Homo sapiens: one gene and its partners. The protein of the gene in region 1 interacts with the protein of each later gene in a pairwise test. Each region holds a gene or a part of one and is shown in the gene's direction. Other genes may lie near its edges.

Evidence for each region.
Region 2: the proteins of BACE2 (region 1) and LARP4B interact in binary tests that used the Homo sapiens proteins (3 or more experiments, as listed by UniProt).
Region 3: the proteins of BACE2 (region 1) and TPM3 interact in binary tests that used the Homo sapiens proteins (3 or more experiments, as listed by UniProt).
Region 4: the proteins of BACE2 (region 1) and TMTC1 interact in binary tests that used the Homo sapiens proteins (3 or more experiments, as listed by UniProt).

What each region holds. Positions count from the first base shown.
Region 1 is NC_000021.9:41,269,156-41,276,182, forward strand, and holds part of BACE2 (beta-secretase 2 isoform A preproprotein), read left to right. Parts: intron 1-6,215; coding exon 6,216-6,469; 3' UTR 6,470-7,027. UniProt on the Homo sapiens protein: Responsible for the proteolytic processing of the amyloid precursor protein (APP).
Region 2 is NC_000010.11:809,694-816,720, reverse strand, and holds part of LARP4B (la-related protein 4B), read left to right. Parts: intron 1-1,650; coding exon 1,651-1,775; intron 1,776-1,870; coding exon 1,871-1,979; coding exon of another isoform or gene 1,980-2,084; intron 2,085-3,464; coding exon of another isoform or gene 3,465-3,507; coding exon 3,508-3,795; 3' UTR 3,796-7,027. UniProt on the Homo sapiens protein: Stimulates mRNA translation.
Region 3 is NC_000001.11:154,168,083-154,175,109, reverse strand, and holds part of TPM3 (tropomyosin alpha-3 chain), read left to right. Parts: intron 1-1,908; coding exon 1,909-2,026; intron 2,027-2,131; coding exon 2,132-2,202; intron 2,203-3,005; coding exon of another isoform or gene 3,006-3,081; intron 3,082-3,621; coding exon 3,622-3,697; intron 3,698-4,398; coding exon 4,399-4,461; intron 4,462-4,640; coding exon 4,641-4,710; intron 4,711-5,726; coding exon 5,727-5,805; intron 5,806-7,027. UniProt on the Homo sapiens protein: Binds to actin filaments in muscle and non-muscle cells. Plays a central role, in association with the troponin complex, in the calcium dependent regulation of vertebrate striated muscle contraction.
Region 4 is NC_000012.12:29,514,922-29,521,948, reverse strand, and holds part of TMTC1 (protein O-mannosyl-transferase TMTC1), read left to right. Parts: intron 1-885; exon of another isoform or gene 886-1,016; intron 1,017-1,228; coding exon 1,229-1,331; intron 1,332-2,128; exon of another isoform or gene 2,129-2,218; intron 2,219-3,341; coding exon 3,342-3,477; intron 3,478-4,377; coding exon 4,378-4,522; intron 4,523-5,462; coding exon 5,463-5,600; intron 5,601-7,027. UniProt on the Homo sapiens protein: Transfers mannosyl residues to the hydroxyl group of serine or threonine residues.

The sequences.
Region 1 (7,027 bases):
GTTGGTCAAGCTGGTCTTCAACTCCTGACCTCAGGTTATCTACCTGCCTCGGCCTCCCAAAGTGCTGGGATTACAGGCATGAGCCACCGAGCCTGGCCTCGGTTTTTCTTTTCTAATCTCAATGAGATTATAACAGATGTGCTATTCTTTGACATGCTTTGACTATCTTATTCTTTTGACTTTTTGAAACAGCTTTGTTGGGATATAATTGGTGTAAAATAAACAGTTCATGTTGAAAGGATACAGTTTGATAAGTGTTATATGTGTGCGCACCTTGAAACCATCACCACAAACAAGGTAGTGATCATATGCACTGAGCTGTTTTCCCTGCCTCCCAGGTCCTGTGGACCCCATGCCATTCCCAGGAAACCACTGACGTGCCTTCTGTCACTGTAGACTAGTTTGTATTTGTTAGAATTTTATATAAATGAAATCATACAGTATGTATTCCATTTTGTCTGACTGCTTTCACACAATAAAATTATTTTGAGGTTCATCTATAATGTTTCATGTTCAAAAGTTCATTTTTATTGCAGATCAATTAGGCATTATAGTTTCTTTATCCCCATACACCTGTTGATGAACTTTTGGATTGTTGCCAAGTTTTGGGTTTTTTGGCAATTATAAATAAAGCTGCTATCAACAATAGCATGCAAGTCCTTGGACATATATTTTGTTTTTTATTTCTCCTGGATAAACACCTAGGAGTAGAATCGTTGAGTTACATAACATGTATGTTTTACTACTTAAAAAGCTGCCAAACTCATTTTCAAAGTTGGCTTTATCATGTCACATTCCTGCCAACAGTGTATGAAAGTTCCAGTTGTTAAACATCCTCACCAACATTTGGTATGGTCAGTATTTTCATTTTAATAGGTATTAATATTTAGCGGTCTCATCGTGGCTTTAATTTGCATTTCCCTAATGACTAATAATCCTGAATATCTTTTCATGTACTTTTTTGCCATTCATGCATCTTTTTAAATGAAATGTCTTTTCAAATGTTCTTGCCCATTTTTGTATAGGGTTGTTTGTTTTCTCATTGAGTCCTCAGAGTTATTTATATATGAAGAATACAAGTCCTTTATCAGAAATTTGGCTTTCAAATATTTTTGCCAAGTCTTTTTAGTCTGTTAATATTTTCTATTAAAGAGGAGCAGTTCTTACTTAATTTTGATAAAATCCATTTTTTTTCCTTTTACAAATTGTGCTTTTGGGTACTATAGCTAAGAAATTTTTCGCCTAACCCCAGGACACAAAGATTTTATATATATATAATGGAGATGGGGTCTTGCTCTGTCACCAGACTAGAGTACAGTAGCGTGAGCATAGTTCATTGCAGCCTCCATCTCCTGGCCTCAAGTGATCCTCCTACCACCGTCGCCTAAAGTGCTGGGATTATAGGCATGAGCCACCACCACACCTGGCCACAAATGTGTTATTTAGTTTCCAAATAATTAGGGATTTTTCCAGAAGCTTTCTGTTATTCTAATATAACCTCAGTGTGGGCAGGGAATATAGTTTTTATGAATTGAATCTTTTGAAATTTATTGAAACTTATTTCATTGTCCAGAATATAGTCTATCACAGTAAATATTTCTTGTGCTCTTGAAAACAATGTATATTCTGCTATTATGGGTGGATTAGTTTATAATAGTTAGATCAAGTTAGTTAATAGTGTTGTTTAGGTATTCTATATCATAACTTATTTTCTGTCTACTTGCTCTATTATTGAGAAACGGATATTGGAATCTCTGACTATATTTGTGGATTTGTCTATTTCTCTTTGCATTTTCATCAATCTTGTTTTATGTATTTTGAAACACTGTTATTAGGTAAAAAAACATTAGGATTTTTATGTCCTATTTATGAAGGAAACAGTTTATCATTATGAAACTACTATATTTACTTCTAGTAATTTTTTTGATCTGTATCTATTCTGTCTAATAATATAGCCACTCTGGATTTCTTTTGATAAGCATTAATATGATAGTTTTTTTCCATCTGTTTAGTTTTAACATTTTGAGTCTTAACATTAAAAGTGAGTTTCCTGTAGGGAGAATATACTTGGATCTTGCTTTTTATCTAATTTAGCAGTCTCTGTTTTTTAGTTGTGATGTTTAGGCCAGAGATCCACAAACAACAGTCTATAGGCTGAATCCAGCATGTGGCTTGTTTCTGTATGGCCTGTGAGGTAAGAATAGTTTTTACATTTTTAAAGGGTTGAAAAAATCAGAAAGAAGCTAACCTAAAAAGCTTAACATATTTACTATCTGGCCCTTTACGGAAAAAGTTTGCCAAATGCTGGTTTAGACTATTTATATTTAATGTATGATTGATATGTCTGTGTTTAACCAGTAACACAACAAAGAAAACTATTTTTCTTTTTGTCTCATTTGTTACATTTTTTCCCTTTTTTCCTTTTTTGCTGCCTTCTTTTGGATTATTTTCTATTTCTTTATATCTCCTTGGCTAGTTTATTAGCTATAACTCTATATCGTGAAATTTTAGTGGTTGCTTTAGAATATGTAGTGTAAATTTTTTAACTGACCACAGTCTACCACTTCATATAGTCTAAGAGCCTTCCAACAATAGACTTCCATTTCTTGCCTTCGGTCCTTTGTGCTATTGTCATCCATTTTACCTATGCCTATATTATAAGCCACCCAGCACATTGTTATAATTTTTGATTTAATTGATTATCTTTGTAAATATTTAAAATTAAAAGTAAAGATTTTATAACTACTATATACTTCCCGCTTCTGGTGTTCATCATTCTTTTGTGTAGATTCAAGTTTCCTTCTGATGTCCTTTTTCTTCTGCTTGAAGAACTTTCTGTAGTGAAAATCTGTGATGTGTTCTCTCAGCTTGTGTATGACTGAAAATATTTTTATTTCTTCTTCATTTTTAAGATATTTTTGCTGGGTATAGAGTTCTCGGTTGACAGGGCTTCTTCTACCCCCAGTACTTTAAAGATGTTACTCTATTGTCTTCTAGTTTGCATTGCTTCCAACATGAAATCATCTGTAATCCTTATTATTATTCATTTGTACATAATATTTCTTTTTTCTCTCTCCTTGCTTTTAGGAAATTTTCTCTTTATCACTGGTTTTCAGCAGTGCGCTATTATAATCTATGTCATGTTTCTTGTGTTTGGGGTCCTTTGGGCTTCTTGGGTCTGTGGGTTTATAGTTTCATAAAATTTGGAAAATTTTTGGTTTTTTCAAATATTTTTTGCCTCACAATCCCTTCTTCCTTTTGAGTACTCTGATTACATGATTTAGCAGCTTGATATTGTCCACAGTTTACTGATGTTCTCTCTCTCTCTTTTTTTTCAGTTTTTTCTCTGTGCTTCATTTCTATTGTTTTGGTTTTTTTTAAATTCATTAGTCTGTTTTTCTGCAGTGTATAATCTGCTCTTACAACCATCCCGTATATTTTTCATCTCACATATTATAATTTTTATCACTAAAAATTTGATTTAGATCTTTAATGTCTTCCGTGTCTCTATTTAACATGTTTAACATTTTCTCTGGCATCCTGAGTAGAATACAGTTATAATAAATATCTTGATATCCTGCCTGCTAATTCTATCATCTGTGCCATTTCTTACTAAGTTCCAATTGATTGATTTTGCTCCCTATTATGAACTGTGTTTTCCTGCTTCTTTGCATAATTAGTGCTGTAGAATCAATGTTTATGTCCTGCCAAAATTCTTATGTTGAAACCTATCGGGGGAACCTGCCCCCGATAATTCAACATTATTTCACGTAGGTTCTTTTCTATTTCCTTAAGTGTCAGCCGGTCTGAGAAATAAAGGGAAAGAGTACAAAAGAGAGAAATTTTAAAGCTGGGTGTCCAGGGAAGACATCACATGTCGGCAGGTTCGTGATGCCCCCTGAGCTGCAAAACCAGCAAGTTTTTATTAGTGATTTTCAAAGGGGAGGGAGTGTACGAATAGGGTGTGGGTCACAGAGATCACATACTTCACAAGGTAATAAAATATTACAAGGCAAATGGAGGCAGGGCAAGATCACAGGACCAGGGCGAAATCAAAATTGCTAATGAAGCTTTGGGCACGCATTGTCATTGATAACATCTTATCAGGAGACAGGGTTTGAGAGCAGACAACTGGTCTGACCAAAATTTATTAGGCGGAAATTTCCTTGTCCTGATAGGCCTGGGAGCGCTATGGGAGACCGGGGCTTATTTCATCCCTTATCGGCAACCGTAAAAGACAGACATTGCCAGAGCAGCCATTTCAGGGACCTACCCCTAGGAACACATTCTTTTTCTCAGGGCTGTTCCTGCTGAGAAAAATAATTCAGCGATATTTCTCCTATTTGCTTTTGAAAGAAGAGAAATATGGCTCTGTTCCGCCCGGCTCTCAGGCAGCCAGACCTAATGGTTATCTCCTTTGTTCCCTGAACATTGCTGTTAGCCTGTTCTTTTCTCAAGGTGCCCAGATTTCATATTGTTTAAACAATTTGTGCAGTTAACACAATCATCACAGGGTCCTGAGGTGGCATACATTCTCAGCTTAGGAAGATGATGGGATTAAGAGATTAAAGTAAAGACAGCATAGGAAATCACAAGAGTATTGATTGGGGAAGTGATAAATGTCCATGAAATCTTCACAATTTATGTTCAGAGATTGCAGTAAAGACAGGCGTAAGAAATTATAAAAGTACTAATTTAAGGAACTAATAAATGTCTGAAATCTTCACAATTTATGTTCTTCTGCCATGGCTTTGGCCAGTCCCTCCGTTCGGGGTCCCTGACTTCCCGCAACAGAAACCTAATCTCCAAGGTGATGATATTTGGAGTTGGGGCCTTTGGAAGGTGATTAGGTCACGAGGGCAGAGCTTTTCTTTGTAAATGGAATTACTGCCCATTATTAAAGACAGTCCAAGAGAGCTCCCTTGTCTCTTCCACCATGTAAAGACACAGCAAGAAGATCATTATCTACAAACCAGGAAATGGGAGTATAGATTGACTGCAGGGTGCATCCCTCTGTTCTCGGTGTTGGCAGGCTCTTGTTCATTGCCTTTCTTTTTCAGTGCACTTAGGAAAGCCATATTATGACAGAATCCACATTAGCAAGAAAATGCAGTCACTTTGCAAAGTAATCAAGCCTGTTTTCCTCTGATTTTAAAACCATTCTTTTCAGGTCATTATCGCATTGTTATTTTGACTTTTTCTTTCCTCAGTCAAAAAGGGTATTATTTGGCAGCTCTGAAGATCTTGAGGCTTTAGTTACAGAAAAATCAAATTCTTAGCAGTGTTATTTTCTGGTGCCAAAATATTCATTTCTGTGATTAAATATAGGAAAAATGGGTAATGAGGCCTATTTCTTTTCCGTATTGCAAGTAAAGCTTAAGATCCCATATTCCTGAAAGGGGCAGAGAAGCCTAGTGTAGGCAAAGGAAGTCTACAGATAATCCACAAACCGGCTTTAAGAAATCATCTCAACTTCCTTCTTGGTTTGAAGTTATTCAAGAGTCTCTAGCAGAAGTCACCGGGTGAATTTTAACTGTTTCTCTTTGTCACCAGTGATGTCATGAATTAGGTGTTGCATTCACTTACTGCTCCTGGCTGTTGATGAGACCTAGGATAAGAGTGGGGCAGGGAGGGTCTCTCAAGCCAGCCTGACCCCCGGAGGTCTCACAACCCACTAAGACTATGAGTCAGGTTGATATGAGGTCCCTATCTGTTGTAGAATCCATGGTAGGGAGTGAACTCAGGTTGACTCCACTGGGGAAAATTCCCCATGACGTAGGCAGGTCCAGCTGAGCTTTCTGCGGTAAATTCTCCTTCTCTTTCTCCTCTTTTTTCATCTCCACTGAGGAAGCACAACCCACACAGCTGTCATGACCAGGTGCTGACCTGCACTCTCACCTGTGTAGTACCGCAGTGTCGCTGGCATTCCATGAAGCACAGGGTGCTTCCATATGTGCCCTGCTGCAGTTCCCCTCCACACCTAGGCTCGGTACCCACACACCTTAAAACATGCCGTCGTTCCAGTTTGCAGGGACTGGACCCCCAAAGGCACGCTGAGCCGTGACCCCACTCAGTGCTTCCTGAGCTGTCTAAGCCACTGGGACCTCAGTGGACTTTAACTGTGGTTTAATAAACCAAGGGGTTCTGTCTGTGTCCAATGTGAGAGGTGGACCGCTCATTTCACAGCTGTGGATTTTCCCTTTCTGTCTCCCCAGAAATTGCAGGTGCTGCAGTGTCTGAAATTTCCGGGCCTTTCTCAACAGAGGATGTAGCCAGCAACTGTGTCCCCGCTCAGTCTTTGAGCGAGCCCATTTTGTGGATTGTGTCCTATGCGCTCATGAGCGTCTGTGGAGCCATCCTCCTTGTCTTAATCGTCCTGCTGCTGCTGCCGTTCCGGTGTCAGCGTCGCCCCCGTGACCCTGAGGTCGTCAATGATGAGTCCTCTCTGGTCAGACATCGCTGGAAATGAATAGCCAGGCCTGACCTCAAGCAACCATGAACTCAGCTATTAAGAAAATCACATTTCCAGGGCAGCAGCCGGGATCGATGGTGGCGCTTTCTCCTGTGCCCACCCGTCTTCAATCTCTGTTCTGCTCCCAGATGCCTTCTAGATTCACTGTCTTTTGATTCTTGATTTTCAAGCTTTCAAATCCTCCCTACTTCCAAGAAAAATAATTAAAAAAAAAACTTCATTCTAAACCAAAACAGAGTGGATTGGGCTGCAGGCTCTATGGGGTTCGTTATGCCAAAGTGTCTACATGTGCCACCAACATAAAACAAAACCAAGCCTTGGCTCGTTCTCTTCTCTCTTCAATCTCTGGAAAAATAAGTACATATAGTTGATAACCCCTCTTAGCTTACAGGAAGCTTTTTGTATTAATTGCCTTTGAGGTTATTTTCCGCCAGACCTCAACCTGGGTCAAAGTGGTACAGGAAGGCTTGCAGTATGATGGCAGGAGAATCAGCCTGGGGCCTGGGGATGTAACCAAGCTGTACCCTTGAGACCTGGAACCAGAGCCACAGGCCC
Region 2 (7,027 bases), on another chromosome or scaffold:
CATTAGCCTTAAATTTCCACACCGTCATTTCTAAGGTATTAGTGCCTTGAGAAGAAATGCAGTTTAAAGATCATGAATTCTAGTTTTCCAACTGTAGCCTACTCCCGTTGGTATTGAGTGGAGGAGAAGAGGCAGGTCTCCAACCCTGCTTCAGAAACAGCAGCTCCTGCTGTGCCCAGTTTGAGTCTTGTGTAAGGTTTCTCTTGAAGAAAGAATTGCTTCTTTGAAAAGCCTGACCCTGAGCCTTATGCCACCACCCAGGTGTAGTGGGCTCCATTGCTGCTTCTTGGGAGCTTCTTGAGTCAACAGCGTGGCCCTTGGGTTTCAAAGTGGGGTGGAGGCTCCAGAAATGATGGGGTTCAGCCCTTCCCCTGTTGACATGGAGCTCGTGATGGTCACTCTGACTTGCTTCATGACCTGCAGTTGTGGATCTGCATTTCATTTGCATTGGGACTGCACATATCCTGAATTAATTAGTTAATTTGTTTATTTAAGATAGAGTCTTGCTCTGTCACCCAGGCTGGAATGCAGTGGCACGACCTTGGCTCCCTGCAACCTCCGCCTCCTGGGTTCCAGTGATTCTCCTGCCTCGGCCTACCGAGTAGCTGGGACTACAGGCATGCACCACCACACCCGGCTAATTTTTGTATTATTAGTAGAGATGGGGTTTCACCATGTTGGCCAGGCTGGCCTCAAACCCCTGACCTCAGGTGATTCGTCCACCTCAGCCTCCCAAAATGCGGGGATTATAGGCGTGAGCCACCGTGCCCGGCCCCTACCCTGAATTTAAAATGAGCTTTTACAAAAGGAGTCCTTTGCCCTCTTGTTTCCACCAAGCTGGATTCCTGCTGGTCGAGCGCAGGAATTGCAGCGGATTCTGGTTCTCCAGCTGGAAGGGCTCTAGGTCTGTCGTCAGCCTTCATCTAAGGGCAGAAGTGTAAAGAGCACCTGCCCTCCTGCCTTTTTTAAGTTGCATGACAAGTGTATCATCACATGCCATATGTATAAGATCAAGCACACATGAAATAGCCCCTGCACAGGGGTCGCTGGCTGGAGTAAGGAGGGAGTAAGTTTCACTCCGTCCTTTGCTTCCTGGCCTTGGGCAAATTAACTTAGAGGTATTGGGCCTCAGTTTCCTCACCTGTTGAGATGGGGGCATTCGCACACCTGCTTCCTGGGGTTGTGAATTCAGGGAGGGCTGGGAGCTCACATTTATATGGGTGTGGAGGCGCCGATTGTTTTTTCTCAGCGGTGTGAATGAGTTGTGTTGGACTGTGTTAGGATTCGACACTCAGCAGATATGCATGTGGTGTTGTGCCGTGCCGTGCTGGGCCCAAAGTGCCAGGTGGGTGAGATGTGTTTGATGCCTGTTCAGTTAAGAAATAAGCTTGTAGATCATCATTGCGGGAGAGGAGATAAGGGCCTGTGATGTAAGAACAGTGGGGCATTTGCCGAGAAAGAGAAGGGTGGGCGATCTGTGGGGCAGAGGATAGTCCTGGGCTCTGTGACATTTTTGCTGGAGAAGACCCTCTTCCCCTATGTCCTTGTGCTGCTCTCCCAAGGCTGTTCACGGGTGGGGTGAACGGGCACTGGTACCAGCTCCGCTTAGTGCCGGCAGGACTCTGATGAACACTCTTGACCCTGTTTCAGACCCTCAGTGCAGACGCAAGCGTGAACACCCTTCCTGTAGTGGTCTCCAGAGAGCCCTCGGTGCCGGCTTCTTGTGCTGTATCAGCAACGTACGAGCGATCCCCCTCCCCAGCTCATTTACCCGAGTGAGTATTGGTGTTCTTCCAGCGCCTTGGTGTTGACTGACTTGAATGGCCTGTGATGTTGCATGAGATTCAAATATCGGGTGGCATTTTTACAGTGATCCCAAGGTGGCGGAGAAACAGAGGGAAACCCACAGTGTGGACAGACTTCCTTCCGCCCTCACTGCGACCGCGTGTAAATCGGTGCAGGTGAACGGAGCCGCCACGGTACGTACCTCGTGCCTGCCTTCCTGCACGACAGCCGCGAGGCTCTGGTGTGAACAGACGCTGCGCACTCCTGCACCTGCTCGTTTTTTAATCACATCTAATTTGGTGGGTTTTTATTTGCGTCTGTCTGTGTTGTGTTTTCTGTACAAAATACCTTTAATATTTGCTAATAATTTTCCACTAACTACTCTAGTTCTTTCTCAGACCACCATGTAGTCCTTTTATTTCAGTGTTGGTCAATAGAGGTTTCTTGAGTAGTAACAAGACCCCAGCTCCTGTTTCTCCATAGACTTTAGGATCATTTCAGCATTTCGCGCGTGTGTGTATGTTTGCGTGCGTGCGCGCGCATCGTGTGTCTGATGAAGAGACAGGAAGAGCAAGATGGTGGCCCCACCAGCCTCCAACCCCTGTGGGCCCAGCAGGCCTGAACCCCAGCGACTTCCTTTCTGCTGTTTTCCCTACTGGGTGAACTGTGGCCTCTCTTACTCTGAGTTGTGGCCTCTGTAGTTTGATCTTGGGGGAGCCTTTTCCTTGAATTTGGGAGTTTAATCCCTTACTGTCCCCTGGGCTGAGTCTAAAAAAGGATTTTTTATAGGTTAAAATTAATAATTTTAATAATAAATAATAATAATAATAAAAGAGGCCAGGTGCTGTGGCTCACGCCTGTAATCCCAGCACTTTGGGAGGCCGAGGTAGGCAGATCATGCGGTCAGGAGATCCAGACAGTCCTGAACAACATGGTGAAACCCTGTCTCTACTGAAAATACAAAAAATTAGCTGGGTTTGGTGGTGGGCACCTGTAGTCCCAGCTACTCAGGAGGCTGAGGCAGGAGAATCACTTGAACCCGGAAGGCAGAGGTTGCAGTGAGCTGAGATTGCACTGCTGCACTCCAGCCTGTGCGACAGAGTGAGACTGTGTCTCAAAAAAAAAAAAAAAAAAGTTATTAAGGGAAATATTTTACTTTTCTGTTATTTAGTCTTTATGCTTCCACTTACCTGAAAACCCTATTACACATTTCTTGAAGATTTTAGCTGTCTTCATCATTCTTAGATATTTCCAGTCCTTTGTAGTTTGAAATGTGCAAAACATTTTTATTTAAAGACTGTTTTTGGAGTTTGCCTTTCAGGGTTGAGTACCGTGTGAGGGTCCATTGCCCACCGTGGGCACCTGGGACACCCTTCTGTTGTCCTGAGCTGGCGGAGCCAGTGTGGGCAGCATCCGGACTCTTCCTAGGCTTCCGCATTGCCCAAGCAGGCATAGGGCTGGGTAGGGATGGTGTTGAGTCAGCACTCTTCTTCGTCATGCCTTTTCTAATTTTATCCATTACTACAGTAGCACAGAGGGAGTGTTCTGCTGCAGGGGAAACTAAATCATTAGATTTTATGAACTTTTTAAAAGTTAAAAACACTAGTGAAGATGGAAACTTAGTTACAGTTGAAAACTCTTTTATCTTAAGTGAACTTGATTTCCTGTCTTGTCCCTAGAGACACCATTTCACACAGGTAACCCAGGATTGTCTGTTTCCAGGAATTGCGAAAGCCCAGCTACGCAGAGATTTGTCAGAGAACGAGTAAAGAGCCTCCTTCTTCCCCATTGCAACCCCAAAAAGAACAAAAGCCAAACACTGTTGGTTGTGGGAAGGAGGAAAAGAAGCTGGCAGAGCCCGCAGAGAGATACCGGGAGCCCCCAGCCCTCAAGTCCACACCTGGAGCCCCCAGAGACCAGAGGCGGCCGGCGGGGGGCCGGCCCTCGCCCTCGGCCATGGGGAAGCGTCTCAGCCGAGAGCAGAGCACTCCCCCCAAGTCTCCTCAGTGAAAACCGTACGTCTGGGAGGGGTCGCAGAGCGCTGTGTTAACCACAAACGAGACACTCTCCCACTCAGTGCGAGGGCGAGCCGCTGGTTAGGAGCTTGCAGTGTCTGAGGCCTGTGGGATCCTCAAGTTGGTTTTCTTCTGTGAGTTGGATTCTCCCCCTCTTGAAAAAAAATCGATTTTTCAGGATTTAATTAATACAAACCTTATTTTAGGTTGGTGCTTAACTGGAGGTGATGCATAAGTCTGATTTTTTTTTCCAAGATAGAAAAAGCATTTATCCTAACAAATTGGTATTTTTTATTAAGCCTCCATGTGGCTCTGAATGCAAGCTATATATAGTGAGTTTTTCTAAATTAAGGGAACTCTGCTTTTTTTTTTTTTTTTTAAGTAACTGGTCTGTAAGTGCATATCTCTAGAACGTCCCCGCAGATGAATGAGGGCCAGTGGCCTTGGCAGAGGCAGGTGTGGCCTCGTAGAGGCAGTGCTGGCCGCGCCAGGGCATCAGTGCTGATGTGGGAGCTGTGCTTCCACCTAAGCCGTTGGTAGGGGACTGTGGCATTTAAGAATGTAGAGAGCGCATCCTTTTTGATCTCCTGGGCGGAGTGAACCTGCAGGGGCCACCCCAGAAACCTTGGTTCTGATGCACTGCAAGCAAGTAACCAGCTTCTCACTCCAGTTTCAAGTGGCTATTATGTAATATAAATTCAAAGCACATTGTGAATAGAACCTACATGAAAACATACACTTTGTTGCCCACTGACATGTTACCAGAAGTTGTACCATGATGTTGTTTTGACCCCTGTGAGCTGATGGCCCCGGCCCTGCTCTGTGCACATTTCTGTCCGTGTTCCCCAGCACTCTGGTTGGAGAGAGTCCACATCTTCAGCTCCGTGTGGACATCTCCCTGTACCTCTGCATCAGCACATGGATTTAAGAGTTATGTAATCGTGAGAGAATGGTGTTTGTGGTTTTTCCCCCTCTTTGGCTGGTGGAGGATAAAGTTCCTGCTCTTTTACCTCCAAGACGAGGGCCTCATTGATTCACTTCCAGAAGTGCTGCACTTCTGAAGAACAAGGATGCACTAAAGTTAGCAAGTTTATAATAAAGTTAAATATAAATTATTTTGTTTTAAAATGCCTCAAATTTTTCTTTATTCTAAGCAGCAAACATTAAAATAAGAATATTTCCTGCTAAATGTAACCATACACTTTATTCCACAAAATGTTATTTAACAAGACTGAGGGTTTTTTTTAAGAAAAAATTATTTCCATCCAATATTTAAAGACTTGAATTTTATTTAAACTTGAAAATGACTTTGCCTTAACTTTTGTATAAGACAGCTTAGAGTCCATGGAGCCCGGCCCTGGGTTGGCGTGAGTGGGTCAGAGTTACTCAGTTACTGCGTGGATCTCCTGTCGCTAGTTTTACTGAGTAAGCATACTGTAGTACAAGAGCTAGTAGTAGTTTTTGTAATATACCTTAAAGATCTTCAACAGTTGATCTTTTTTCAGAATGTTGGAAAATCCTGTAAATGCAAATAGTCAATACTGTATTAAATACGTGCACTTGGAGTGTGCTTCGCTTGTACAGTTGTAAATAATCAGAACATATGAAAAAGGTACCCTACAGAGAAAATTCTGATACAGATTATTGATATATTATAAATGTTGCTGTTGAGCGGGATGTAGATAAACTAAATGTTGTGGTTTGAATATTATTTTGATTTGTTGAGATTTTCTTTTTTCTCTTACATCGGTGTGTTGAACTGATTCTGCCTCTTTGCTGCAAAAGGGAATTGGAAAGTCTTATTAAAAGCCTCCAGATGTTTTCATACTCTTTTAAAATGTATGTAAATGCATACTAATCATATCTAATGTGAAAGAGTTTTAAAGTATATAGAGAGCAAAAACTGGCAGGATCGTAAGTGAAGGTGACTAGTAATCTAATTTAAATCACCTGCAGCTAAGCATGATTGACCCTGCCAGAGGAAAACATGCCTATTTGACCATTTCCTTTAAAGCAGTTGCCATTATTCAAATACAGAGAAATAGCCACAGGGCTAGTGTTTTTCAAATGCATTTTAAAGAACATGGGGATTTTTTTTTGTAGTTGTCAGTTCACTGACCAAAAAAAAAAAAAAAATCAGAAATAATTGATCTGTGAAACCCAAACTCTCAATACTCAGAAAGCTGGGAGGCAACCTCGAGGCCTGGGCCTACGAGCTGCATCTTCGCTACGGAAGGGCCAGGGCGCCATCAGCCATTCCCAAAACACAAGGCCTGCCCGTCCGCCAGTGAGTCCTTGGTTTTTAATAATGAGAAGTCCTTTCCCCCAAGGTGTGAGCATTGCAGCGCAGTGTGTGTGTGTGGTTAGAGCCAGCTTAGTCCTTCACTTTGTCGACCGAAGTGGGAGCTCAACAGCTGCATGAGGAGGGCAGCGCGTGCATTAGCCAGTCGCCACTGGAGGGCTCTGCTGCCCTCCGGTCAATACACTGTAGTTACTGCCTAGCCAGCAGCAGTCTTCTGCATCAAGAACTGAAACGTTGCTCGGAGGTGATTTTTATAGCATCCTTTTTAATTAAAGGTGAAATACAGATTGCTATATAATGTCTGAAAAAACCTGATACTACTTCAAGAGTTTCTGCTCAGAAGAAAATGAGAGTTATCATAATAGGAAGCTGTGGCGGTCCATGCCAACTGTGCTGTGTCACATACAGCGATGAGAGTGGCTTTCATACTTTTTTTTTTTTTAAGTTAACACCCTCCTTTACCCCCAGCAGTATCTCAGGTTATAGAATCAGAGATGCAGCAGTGACAAATGGCATTTTAACTTGTAAAATCGTGTGATGATGCTTATCATTTTGAAATAGAAGAATAAAAACCTGGTCCCGTTTCACCAGACATGAATTTCAAGTGGAGTCGTCGTTCTCTGAGAGTGAGTGTCTTGACATTTTCACCCAGGCCCTCCTGTCATCACATCACCGGCTGTCACTGGCGGGTGGCCGTAAACGTCCTGCGTTGCTATATTAGGATCTCTGCAGTTCAGGCTTCAAAACCAGTTCAGTGTATCCGGGCGACGGGTAGTGGTGGTGCATGCCTGTCTGTGTGCCCCGCTGGCGAGCTGTAGTTGCGGCTTGCGTGCCTCGCGGCCCACTACAGGGCTGCAGACAATCGAGGCGAGGGCGCTGGCCGCCAGCAGCTCACAGCGCGGGGGTCATGTGGTCGCTCCTCGAG
Region 3 (7,027 bases), on another chromosome or scaffold:
TCCTCCCGCCTCGGCCTCCCAGTGTGCTGGGATTACAGGCGTGAGCCACTGCGCCCGGCCTTCCCCAGCTAATTTTAATGTGTTCCTAGGGTTGAGAACCATGGCCCTTGAAACAAATTATAACTCATGTTTTTGAAAATAGCCAGTTGTCTCCTTGCCACATGTGAGTTAAACTAGAACAGAGGTGCTTGACAACTAAGGGTTTTCAGAATAAATAGTGCCTTTCTAAGGGTACGTTACTACTGTGCAGCTGTGAAAATGAAAGAGGCAGCTATGTGTATACTATTAGAGTAGCATGCAAATTATAGAAAGTGAGGGCCGGGCGCAGTGGCTCACACCTGTAATCCCAGCACTTTGGGAGCCTGAGGTGGACGATCACTTGAGGCCAGGAGTTCAAGACCACCCCAGCCAACACAGCAAAATCCAGTCTCTGGTAAAAGTACAAAAATTAGCCAGGCGTGGTGGGGCGCGCCTGTAATCCCAGCTACTCAGGAGGCTAAGGCACGAGAAGCACTGGAACCCAAGAGGCGGAGGTTGCAGTGAGCCTCCCTCTTTTTTTTGGTCTCAAAAAAAAAAAAAGAAAGAAAGTGAGGATAGCTGCATGCTGAATACCGGGGGGAAAAAAAAGAGTGTGGAAAACAAGTTGCAGAACCGTCTAGTATATTATTACTTTGGGGAAGCTGGGATGGGATTTTTGTGTGTATATATATATATATATATATATATATATATATATATATACACATATATTTAAATAATATTTATTTATTTTTTTGAGACAGAGTCTCACTCTATCCCCTAGGCTGGAGTGCAGTGGCACAATCTCGGCTCACTGCAACCTCCACCTCCCGGGTTCAAGCCATTCTCATGCTTCAGCTTCCCTCAAGTAGCTGGGATTACAGGCGCCTGCCACCACGCCTGACTAATTTTTGTATTTCTAGTACAGACAGGGTTTTGCCATGTTGACCAGGCTGGTCTCAAACTCCTGACCTCAGGTGATCTGCCGGCTTCGGCCTCCCAAAGTGCTGGGATTACAGGCGTGAGCCACCACGCCCAGCTGTATATATCCATATTTTTATTTAATATTTTAGTATTTAATTTCTTAATAAGTTTTTTTGGGGGTGGTGGAGGAGACGGTGTCTCACTCTGTCGCCCAGGCTGGAGTGCAGCAGTGCGATCTTGGCTTACTGCAACCTCTGCCTCCCGGGTTCAAGTGATTATCTTGCCTCAGTAGATGGGATTACAGGTGCTTGCCACCACACCTGGCTAATTTTTGTATTTTTAGTAGGGACAGGGTTTCACCATGTTTGCCAGCTGGTCTCGAACTCCTGACCTCAAGTGATCCACCTGACTTGACCTCTCAAAGTACTGGGATTACAGGCATGAGCCACTGCGCTTGGCCAGGATGTATTACCTTTATAACAAAAAGTTTTTTTTTTTTTTTTGAGACGGAGTTTCGCTCTTATTGCCCAGGCTGGAGTGCAATGGCTCGATCTCGGCTCACCGCAACCTCCACCTACTGAGTTCAAGTGATTCTCCTGCCTGAGCCTCCCAAGTAGCTGGAATTACAGGCATGTGCCACTACGCCCAGCTAATTTTGTATTTTTAGTAGAGACGGGGTTTCTCCATGTTGGTCAGGCTGGTCTTGAACTCCCGACCTCAGGTGATCTGCCCGCCTCAGCCTCCCAAAGTGCTGGGGTTATAGGCGTGAGCCACTGTGCCCAGCCATAACAAAAAATTTTAAATGAAATAATTAAACTAAGGTGTGGGAGTAGTAACATGGAATTTCCATTTGAGGGGCAGACAGAGAGGAGTGGGCTTTTAAAAGTACAGTTCTGAGACCCTTGGAGTGGAGCTGACGACACACTCCTCAGGGTGTCAGTATTGCTTTTGTCCTATTTCTGGCAGAGGTATGAAGGTTATTGAAAACCGGGCCTTAAAAGATGAAGAAAAGATGGAACTCCAGGAAATCCAACTCAAAGAAGCTAAGCACATTGCAGAAGAGGCAGATAGGAAGTATGAAGAGGTAAGTGACCTTCTGTTAGTCCCTCTCGTATCGGCCTTTTACAAAGCATAATGCGGTAAATGGCTCCTTTGCTTCACTAAGCTATACTGGGATCTTTTCCTGTAGGTGGCTCGTAAGTTGGTGATCATTGAAGGAGACTTGGAACGCACAGAGGAACGAGCTGAGCTGGCAGAGTCGTGAGTATCTAGCTCCCCAAATCTTGTCATTACCAATTTATCCCTTCCCCTTTGGCTTGGGCACTAATATGAATAAATTAGCATTCCTTCAACCTTGTTAAACAGGGCCTAGGGAATGGGAGTCATCTATAGTGCTTTTTTAGGCCCAAGAATGGTTTTAGGCTTCCTTATTCTCCTGACTAGTGACAAGTGACAAAAGAGGCTTTCTTATTTTTTGTTGGTAGGGTTTACAAATTGAGAGCAAATAAGGACTAATACATGGTGAACAGTTAATTGGAAGATCCTACTGGGTCCTTCCACCTGGGGTGGAAGACATCAAAGTGGCTATCCTGATTTAAGATCTAGTGTCTGGCTGGGTGTGGTGGCTCAAACCTGTAGTCCCAGCTACTTAGTATGCCAAGGCAGGAAGGTTGCTTGAACCCAGGAGTTGGAGGCCAGCCTGGGCGTCATAGGGAGACCCTGTCCCTAAAACAAATAAATTTAAAAAAAAAATCTGGTGTCTGTTTTGGCCACTTTGCCAATCTGCTAGGGAACCTTAGGGCAAGGGTAGATATTAACTGCTCTCCCGTCGGTACCTTCTGGGCCTTGATTAACAAAGTCAGTGCTGAATGCATATGTATTTGTGCTTCCCTCTTACATTCCCGTCTGCCAGACATAACATATCATGACCATGGTGGTGTTCTCTTCCCATTTTTTGAATTTTTTTTTTTCGTTTTGCTGCTTGTTTTCTTGCTGTGTTCCTTTTTGACCTTTCTCCCTCCCCACAACCTGGCTTGTGCCATCCCCGTGACTATCACTAACAGCCGTTGCCGAGAGATGGATGAGCAGATTAGACTGATGGACCAGAACCTGAAGTGTCTGAGTGCTGCTGAAGAAAAGGTACTAACCATTAAGCCCACAGCAAGGTTATATATGTGGTGTGGTTTTGTTTTGTTTTGTTTTTGTTTTGCAGCTGCCTCCCCTCCACTTGATTTTGTTGAGTGCTGTCTCATCTCTTCATGGAATGCTCCATTCTTTTCCACTTACTTGGCATCTTTCATCTCTTCTTTCCTAGTTGCTTCACTGCCTCTCCACAGGGTCTCCTTCCTTTGGGTGATTTGGGGGACTGTTTGGGTTGGGCATTTGTTCCCACCTCCACCCCAGGTAGCAGTTATGACTTGTTCCTGGTAGTGGATTTCTCTCAAGTGCTTTATTAGTATTCAAACATTTTTGAGCCCAGGAAGGTCTAGCTCCTGACACGTTCTATGGTAGAGGGAGGAGGGTTGATGCTTGCTCAGGTTACTTGGGAACATCTCTTCCCCAGTATGCCTTCCAACTCTCTCTACATATAGGTTCAATTCACGTCTATGTGTCTCTCTCCCTTTTTTTATTCTCTTCCTTTTCCCTTTTCCTCTCCTGTGGTATTTAAAATATTCACAGTAAGTGTTCTGAGCTGGAGGAGGAGCTGAAGAATGTCACCAACAACCTCAAGTCTCTTGAGGCTCAGGCGGAGAAGGTAGGGGCTGGTTTGTGAAAGTGACAGGCTTTGGGGCCTGGGCCCAGCCCTGCCCTTGATGAAAGACTGGAGACACGCATTCCATATATAATCCAGTGAGGCGTGTCCTCTTCCTACCTCCTTACCATGTATTCAGGTTCTGGGTTTAATGCTATTTTCTGTGCACTTTGATTGCTTTAATTAAAATAACTTCTTGGTCTCAGGTTACTGGAGTCATGTGCTCCTTAGGCTGATACTGCTGTGCTGAAAAGCAATAATCAAGGGCCCTAACAGGCTTTCTAGCAGACAGATGGGGGCAACAGACAGAATCAGCTCTGAGACCTAATGAGCAATCAAGACAGATGACTTCACTTTGCCATCATGTGGGTGTGTTTCAGTCATGTGACCTTGGGGTGCTACTACTCTTGCTCATCAAGCAGGGGAAAGGAAAAACACCTCCTTGGGTTGATCTGAATAATATCAAAGCTTAGATCCATCTTAAAAAGTCATGGAGAATTTTAACCTGAGGATCTCATGGCTCTAAAGACATAGATTTCTGAATTTCAAGGACCTATTGTCCAGAGCCAGGCCTTGCTCTTACTCTTGGACCATTCAGCACATTTAGTGCAAGAGGATATTCAATGTAAGTTAAATGTAGGGAGGGGGGTATTGCCTGTGTGACTAATTTCTACTCTGAAATTTTTAATCTACTTATCTTACAGTACTCTCAAAAAGAAGATAAATATGAGGAAGAAATCAAGATTCTTACTGATAAACTCAAGGAGGTGAGCTGAGGGGATTTATAGGGCAGAACCCAAAACATTTAGAGGTATATAAGGCATTAATATGGATTTAAACTGGCTGGTTTGGGTTCTGAAAGGTCCAGAAGTAGAAGGTGGAAGAAATAGAGATTGTTCTTCTTTGTCTTCATCTCTGGTTCTGACTAATTTCATATTTCCCCCAGGCAGAGACCCGTGCTGAGTTTGCTGAGAGATCGGTAGCCAAGCTGGAAAAGACAATTGATGACCTGGAAGGTATGGAACCTGGAGTAGGGATTGAAATAGAGAAATATAGAGGAAGACTGCCCATTAACCATTAATCTCTTTTTCTGTACACCAAAGGAAGTTGGTAGTGACTTGGCATGTATTAATATCATGTGCACTGTCCTATGCCACAGCTAGGCAAAGTGGGTCAAACTCTAGAATTGGTTTTTTAAATTTAATCTTTTCCTTTAAGAAGACTTTACCAAATAGTCTGCAATTTGTACCCTTCCCTTTTGAGGAGAATGATAATGGCTGCATTTACCTCCAATTTATTAGTCTTAAACCTTTAGTCTGTGGGTTTAAATGGAAGCCATGATTTCAGAAGGGCAAGATGTATGTCATTTCATGGCTACTTTCCACAGTTCTTTTTGCCACTCAAGTTGTCGGGTATTTATCCAATAAATGAAGTTGTGGAATAACCATATCTGAACATTGACCAATGTCAGGAGCTTTCTAAATACTTTCTGTCCCTGCAAGTTGGTAACTGCCATCCACCCTGACAAGGGAACGTACTCTTTGCTTTGAGAACTCTGATGTATGCTCCTTTGGTACACTCTCTTGGCAGAGTTGCAGGGGCAGCCTGTGGAGCAGAGGGGCCACTAATAGGTTCACATTTTGTAGGCAGAGAAGTGTCTGAATATGGATATATACTCTCTCCCTTTGCTATTTTTGTTCAATTAAGTGTTATCACTGCTAGGAATTGGGTACCTGGATGGGAGTGGTATCCTCTTGAGTGCTTTTGGTAATAGGAATTTCTAGTTATGACTGTGCCCAGGTTCTCAGCCCTTGCTGCAGTCGATTTGGAGTATCAAGAAAGGAAGTTGGTCATAGGAGAGAGTAGATCTGAAAATGTCCAGTCATGGTTGCCAGAGTAGATATTTTCCTAACTGTGGTATTAGACCCACAGTCACACTTTCCTAATTTCTAATGATTCCCTCTCTTCATCTGCTTCTGAAACTCTTCACTCTGTCCCCTCATTCCTCCCTGTGGTTCCTGTGCCTGTCCAGATGAGCTCTATGCCCAGAAACTGAAGTACAAGGCCATTAGCGAGGAGCTGGACCACGCCCTCAATGACATGACCTCTATGTAACTATCTGACAGTAGAGTGGGGCTGGGATCTTGGCTTGTGGGTGGATGGGGGTACAAGCTATGCATAGTGGTGTGCTTTGGTTTTATCCTTTGGAAACTAGAATCTCCACCCTTATCTTTGAAACATTGGTGCTGGTTATTTGTTTGGCAAAAGCTTTGGAGGCATGGCCGGGCGCGGTGGCTCACGCCTGTAATCCCAGCACTTTGGGAGGCCGAGGCAGGTGGATCACGTGAGGTCAGGAGTTGGAGACCAGCCTGGCCAACATGGTGAAACCCCGTCTCTACTAAAAATACAAAAAGTAGCCAGGCATGGTGGCAGTGCACCTGTAATCCTAGCTACTCAGGAGGCTGAGCCAGGAGAATCGCTTGAATCTGGGAGGCAGAGGTTACAGTGAGCCAAGATGTGCCACTGCATTTCAGCCTGGGCAACAGAGTGAGACCCCATCTCAAAAAAAAAAAAAAAGAAAAACATTAAAGGCTGGGCGTAGTGGCTCACACCTGTGATCCCAGCACTTTGGGAGGCTGAGGTGGGCGGATGACTCGAGGCCAGGAGTTCAAGACCAGCCTGGCCAACATGGCAAAACCCTGTCTCTACTAAAAAATATTTAAAAAATTAGTTGGGCTTGGTGGCGCATGTCTATAATCCCAACTACTCGGGAGGCTAAGGCAGGAGAATCACTTGAAACCAGGAGATGGAGGTTGCAGTGAGCCGAGATAATGCCACTGCACTCCAGTCTGGGTTGAAGAGCAAGACTGTCTAAGAAAAAAAAGCTCTGGAGGCAATTAATCTTGGATCAGAAGGAGAACCCTGACTGACTTGTAATTTTTATATTTTGTATTCATAGTTTCTTCATTATACTGTGATTTTTCTATTTGCTTCTCAAATTTAGTCTTCTCAGAAGGGATACTGCTAGAGGTAGAATCCATACAACTAAGGAAATAGGGCCCACAGAGCCAGTAACTTGGGCCCTGACACATTAAGACAAAATTCAGGCCTCCTGGGTGTGTTTAATTGGTTCCCTGATATTAAAGTTCAGGGAACTACCCAAGATGGGAAATACCAAATTCACCTAAGAATTGAGCTGAGTCCCAGAAGCAAGCCAAGTGATAAACAGCACCAAAAAGAGTTGTTGGGGCTTCATCTGTTTGCTGTGGATCCCTGATCCTTGATGCTAATCTGCCTCTTTGTATCTTTCCCACTAACCCTGAAAAGAAGCCA
Region 4 (7,027 bases), on another chromosome or scaffold:
ATTAATTAATTTCACCTTCTGTATAGTAAAAGTAAGTGTGACATAACAGTCTCTAATGGTTGTGAAAAATATGCCTAAAAGGGCCAAGTGCAGTGGTTCATGCCTGTAATCCCAGCACTTTGGTAGGCCAAGACGGGCGGATCACTTGAGGCCAGGAGTTTGAGACCAGCCTGGCCAACATGGGGAAACCCCATCTCTACTAAAAATACAAAAATTAGCTGGGCATGGTGGCACATGCCTGTAATCCCAGCTACTCAGGGAGCTGAGGTGGGAGGATCACTGGAGCCCAGGAGGCAGGAGTTGCAGTGAGCCGAGATCGCCCCATTGCACTCCAGCCAAGGCGACAAAGTGAGACTCTCTGTCTCAAAAAAAAAAAAAAAAAGAAAGAAAGAAAAAGAAAAATGTACCTAAAAAGTAACTCAGAATTACTAAAGTTTGCTAAAGTGAATCTTTAGACAAAGAGAACACAAGGGCAATTAGAATTGGAGCCCTAGAATGAGAGATGTGGTGATCGACCTGAACCTTGCCACACAGGTTGGAGGTACACCCTTGAGGGGACATATAAACCTGTTGGAGGGAGCAGCTCAGAGGTGGAAAGCATGGACTGAGTATGGGAAGTAGCCACCAGTCTGGTGGGCTGTAGACATACTTCAAGTAATGAAAGGATAGGGCAGAGCCCTCCCCAACATCTGCATCTGCCTCCCCTCTCTACTTCCCTCAAAAACTTCCCAAAACAAGCAGTACAGTATATAGATAAAAAGAGAGTCATCTATCCAAATGCAGCTAGAAAACAAATTCCCCAGACTGCCCTGCCTCCCAACCACATTGCCACCTCTGAAAACATTCCACCATTTTTGCATCCCCCGTTTTCGTATGGAGAGTCACCGGGGTGAAGGGCATCCTATTCGAACAACTATTTTCAGTCCTTTTTCCCCGGTAGGCGTGCATGTTGTACAGGTCCATATCCTTCCAAAGGTCCCATTTGAGAAAACATCATCTTTTTCGCCCTAAGGGAACTAAATACAGATATGAATTTTGGGTATTTTGTACACAGTTAATATTGCCTTTAATTCAAACAAAGTTCATAGTGCCTTATCTCAGTAGCCTGTTGTATATTAGGTGCTTAGTAAGATTTATTTTTTTTTTGCTTTTCCTGCTCCTAATATTCAGTTATTGTTGGTTTTAGAAAGCTTTCTCACTTATTTTGTTTGTTTCTTTCTTTTTAAAGGAGCGGTTTAAAGAAGCTGAAGAAATATACCAAACTGGAATAAAGAACTGTCCAGACAGCTCAGATTTACACAACAACTATGGGGTTTTCTTAGTTGATACTGGTAAGTGAAATTAAAGAGAAACTGTACTGCTGAGATTAGCTAATACAATTTATCAAGCAAAATGGAAGGCAAATAATCCTCAGAAGTAAAATTCACTGGGCTTGGCAGGAAGCTCACACTATTGACAGTCATTATACCTCGGGGCTGTCATTTCTCTAGATCTTCAAGCTCGATTCAGTAAAATCTGGCCATTCTCATACTCATTTCTCTATGGAAAACTCCCCAGGGGACAGGAAGTAGCCTTATGATTTAATAAGTCCCAATCTTCTTTGAATATTATTTATATATATTTATAAATCCATGATGATGAAATGTTTCTCTACAATGATGCAAAACCTGCCTCTGAAAGCAGTTACTGGCAGATGGTAAATACTTTTCTATAACATATTTTTTAAAAGCCTCCAGAATTGTTCCATCATTCCTTCCTTGATGTACATTAGAAACTGCATTATTAAAATTGATACAATGCTCTTATATGACAGGTGCTATATAAAATACACTTACTTTATCTTACTTAATGCAAAACATTACTGGGCATGAATTCTCTTTTCTTTATGACTTATGTAGTGCCTCTGTACTGTTGGCATGCAATGTAAGTAATGAAATTATATTTAAATGTAAGGCCAAAGCACCACTTTGTTCTTGTTGATTACTAGACTAGCTGCCCTGCAGCAAAATTTAGTTTAATTAGTTTTTCAATATGAAATGCTTAAAGGGGTTTTATTTTCAAGGATATTTGGAGCTCTCTTGTTTTACAGAATATAAAATTTACATTCTGATACATCTAAGAAACTTACCTTATTTTTGCCTGTGTAAAATTGTTGTGTAGTGCCACCTGCTGGTTCATTGGCCACATAATAATAAACTGTCTTAAAAATATAAAAACTAGAAGAAACCTCTAGTTGGGCAGGTCTAACCCTCCTCCTTTTACTTCAACAACAGTCCCACCCCACCACACCCCTAAAAATGATAACTCTGTGACCACCCTATGACATTGAGCCTCTGCCTCCAGAGACAGAGGCTCCTAGGGACCTCCTAGTCAAACTTGTATTCAAACAGATACGCTTGAAAAGATTTCTGTGTAGATAATAGACATTCCATTCTATTTAGAATTTCACAGTGTTCTAAAGTGTAGTTACTGAATATAGTTTCACCAGGAAGCTACTTTGAAGAAACCTATCAGAGTAGAGGGCCTTCATTCTGCTTCTGGCCTTACTCTCACTTGCCTTGGGATCTTTATCAAGTCTGTTGAATATCTTTGCACTTTAGTGTCTATATCTGTAAAGTGGAAAATTTTTGTGTGTGGTTTTTTAAATATCTCTTAAATCCTGATAAACAGCTAAACAGTATCAAAAGGCAGCTAAATTGTATAAAAAAATACCTGCAAAAACCATACAAATGTAAGTATTTAAAAATATATAATGCATTGGACAAGTGCATGGTGGCATTATTATGTTGTAAGTCTTATTAATTAAGTGCCATTCAAATGAAAGTGCATGATTTTAAAAGAGATTTTCACTATAGAGCTGATATGTGTTATTTAAAGTAATGCTTCAATTGCTATGTTGAAGTATAGTTCATTGAGACAGACCCTTAGAAATTGCTTCTGGACAGTTTTATTTCTACAGTAGCCTGTTCTATTTTTTATATAATGAGAGCCAGTTATATCTTGGATAAATAACAATCACTAATAATCTGAAGGCATCCTATTAGCAAGAGCGATGACCAGAAAAATTTCGACTAAAATAATATATATAATTAAAACAATAGGTTTTAGTTTTTACTGCTTTTTTGTTAATTTTTTTGGAAGTATGAATGAACAGTGAAATTGTTCAAAGTTAGGCAATGGCCAGGATGAGAAGCTGAAATGCAAGCTAATTTGCATATTGAATAATTTTGGTATAACTCTGTAATAATGAGAAAGAATTATAAGTCAGAAGAGAAAGTGAAATGTTCATGTCTTTTATAAAAAGGCATGTTCTGCTCTTACCAACCTGTCACTGGTTACAGGCTTACCAGAAAAGGCAGTGGCCCATTACCAGCAGGCCATCAAACTTAGCCCCAGTCATCACGTGGCCATGGTGAACTTGGGAAGACTCTACAGGTCACTGGGAGAGAACAGCATGGCTGAAGAATGGTACAAGCGGTAAAGTTCCCTTTCTTTTCTTTATAAGTTGCCCAGGAACCTCAGCAATCACTCATCAGCTTCTTAGTTAATCAGAATAGGTGTGCTCTCAGAATACTAGCAAATTTTGCCAATTCAGGTGATACAAATTTTTATCTCCAAAGAAAGCAACCACAATATAAATGGGATCATAATTCATGACTTTGGCTTGCTGGTTAGACTATAGTGCTGAACCAAGGTTGAAATTTAATTCCCACTTTAGTCAGTTTGTTGTTTTCTGAAGCCATGGATTGCAACCCCAATCATAAACAGCAATTTAAAAAATGAGGATACATGAAAAACTATGCACACATGAGAACAAATTCATCATAATTAATGAGAAAGACCCTTGGGGCTCAGTTTCCATATTGATAGGTCAATAAGACATTCTTACGTTCCAACTATGGCATCATGATCATTTTGTAAAAACCTTGTTCTTGGCCAGGTGCGGTGGCTCATGCCTGTAATCCCAGCACTTTGGGAGGCCAAGATGGTCGAATCACCTGAGGTCAGATGTTCAAGACCAACTTGGCCAACATGGTGAAACCTCGTCTCTACTAAAAGTACAAAAATTAGCCGGGCATGATGGCGGGCACCTGTAATCCCTGCTACTCAGGAGGCTGAGGCAGGAGAATCACTTGAACCTGGGAGGTGGAGGTTGCATGAGCCAAGATTGTGCCACTGCACTCCAGCCTGGGTGACAGAGTGAGACTCTGTCTCAAAAAAAAAGAAAAAGCCAAAAACCTTGTTATTGATATAAAAACAAAGACCGTATTGGAGCAGAGGTTCAAACCATGGACCGTCTTCCCTAAATCTAAGCCTAGACATTTGGAAATGTACCTATTAGAAGAGAAATGTCATTTAGATTTTCTCCAAACTCAGCGCCCTGCAGGTGGCACACAAAGCTGAGATATTGTCACCTTTGGGAGCACTGTATTACAACACTGGCCGATACGAAGAGGCTTTGCAGATTTACCAGGAAGCTGCAGCACTTCAGCCTTCTCAGAGGGAGCTCCGCTTGGCACTGGTGAGTAGGATGAAAGAAAATGAAGCTGGCAACCTAAGCACAGGCAGCCATAGAGAGAGCTGTAGTCCTCACGCCTCAAAACTGGAGCTGGAATGCCGTAATATATCCACTGTATGAATATTCATACAGCTAATGTTAGAGCCATTCTCTAAAGACATGGACACCAAAAATACTGCATTTTTGTTTTGAAATAACTTCAAACTTATGAAAGTGTTGCAAGAATAGTAAAAAATTTACATATACCCTTTCATCCAGCTCCAATGATTTGTAACATTTTGATTCATTTATCACTCCATTGTGTATGCATATGTAGATGTATATGTACCTACATGTATATGTGTGCATATTTAGATATGTATGTTTGTATATACCTATTATTAGTGTGTGTTATTTTTTTCCTGAACCATGTGGGAATTAGTTGTATATATCATTCCCCTTTATCTCTAAATACCTTTGCAAATAGTTTCTAAGAAGGACATTCTCTAACATAACCACAGTGTATTTATTAGACTCAGGAAAATTAACATTCATACCAACAAAATTTTTATTTCAGTGTTTGGAACTTCACTCATCCTTTTCCTTAGATGTGCAATAAATCAAATTTGTTATCTTGCTGTAAACACACTGTTCTGATGAAATCAGAGGAAATTCTTTCTCTTCTGACTTATTTGGTCAACCTTTTTTAAAAGCCACAAGCCATTTCACTGGATATATTTAGTGTTTCTGCCACTCACTCACAAATGCATGCACAAAACTAAATAAAGAAACAAACAGCAAAAAGTCAAAACCTGAAAACTGGTGATTCAGCCTTCTCTATGAGTCACTAAATTGATGCTGAGCATGTTTGTCAGGAGTGCGTTCTGAATGCTTCTATTCAGGGATGCTTTATTTGATAAGGTAATGAAGTCTCTGCTAAGCCAAGGTCCATGTGGTTTTGTAGGCTCAGGTTTTGGCCGTGATGGGTCAGACAAAAGAAGCTGAAAAGATGACCAATCACATTGTGTCAGAGGAGACCGGATGCCTTGAATGCTATCGCCTCTTGTCAGCCATCTATAGCAAGCAGGAGAACCACGACAAGGTAAAGAAGGACATTGTTTAGAGTTCTTTGGATTCATAGGTTAAACATGGGGTGCACCTAAGTGATTCTCCAGTTTGCGTGTTTATAAGCCTGGGAAATCTTAAATCTTATCCGTCAGCATATCCTATCTCTTGGAAACTTTTCACAGATATCCCCTTAACACCTAAGATGTCCCCTTGTAATAATATTTTTCTTGGCTTATCTTTGGTGTAAAGCTTTTATGTGGTATTGTCTTAGTTTGTTTTCAGCTAAGTCTATAAAGATCAAGACCAACATTTATATGCTTTATTATTTTGTATTTTCCTTCTTATATATTGTTTTATGTAATCCTCATAACAACCATGCTTTACAGGGTTGTTATGAGGATTACATAAAACAATATAGAAGAGGAATATATAGGAAGATTACATGAAACAATATATAAGAAGGAAACACAGGGTGACCCAATGTCACAACTGTTATTATCTCCATTTTAAAAGTCACATAATCAGTAAATTTATAAACTGACTCAATGAAGTAATTGTTGAAGGCCCACTATGTCCTGGCCACTGTAGTAGGCATCAGAAATAAAGTGGTATGAAAAAAAAAAAAAAAAGTCACTGCCCTTGTCTTCATGGAGCTAACCCATAGAGAAGGAGATTAAACAGGTACTCACAAAACAAATGTAGAGTGATAGCTGTGCCCAGGAATATCATGAAGCGCTACCTCTCCCAAAGAGCATATAATCAGGGGACCCGATGAGTCTGGGAGGCCAGGTCTCCCTGTAAAGTGATGTGGAGGTGAGGGCTGGATGAAGAATAAGAGTTGTTAGGCAGAGGAAGAAGCAAGGAGGATTCTGGGCAGGGAAACGCACATGCAAAGCCCTGTGGCAGCAGTGAGGGGCCTCTCTGAGGAATGGGAGTGAGGGAGCAGGAGCACCGTAGGAACGCAAGCACAGGCTGCTGGGAGGAGACTCCTTGGGGCCAGGCCAAGGGTTTTGTTCCTTACCATGGGAGAAGCTTTGGGTTTTTGTGGAGAGGAGGAACATGATCAGATATTTGCTTTGAAGGGATCTTTGGCTGCAGTGGGGTCAGTGGGTGCTGGGGGCAGAATGGTCACTAGGACCTGAGAGGGGCTGGTGGGGTGGTCCAGATGAACACATGGTCAGGGAAAACGTCTGATGCCAAATCTTGTTTTCTTTCAACTGTATCACACCACCTCCCTGTAAAGTAATCAAGGATATTTTATTGCCACTCATCGATACGTGGGAAAACTGGAGTGTAAGAAAGTTATTTTGTCAGGGCCACTAATTCCCAGTGAGAAAATCAAAGATAATGAAGAATGTATATATATTTGAGACAAGGTCTTCCTCTGTTGCCCAGGCTGGAGTGCAGTGGCATGATCTCACCTCACTACAAGGTCCACCTCCCAGGGCTCAAGAGATCCTC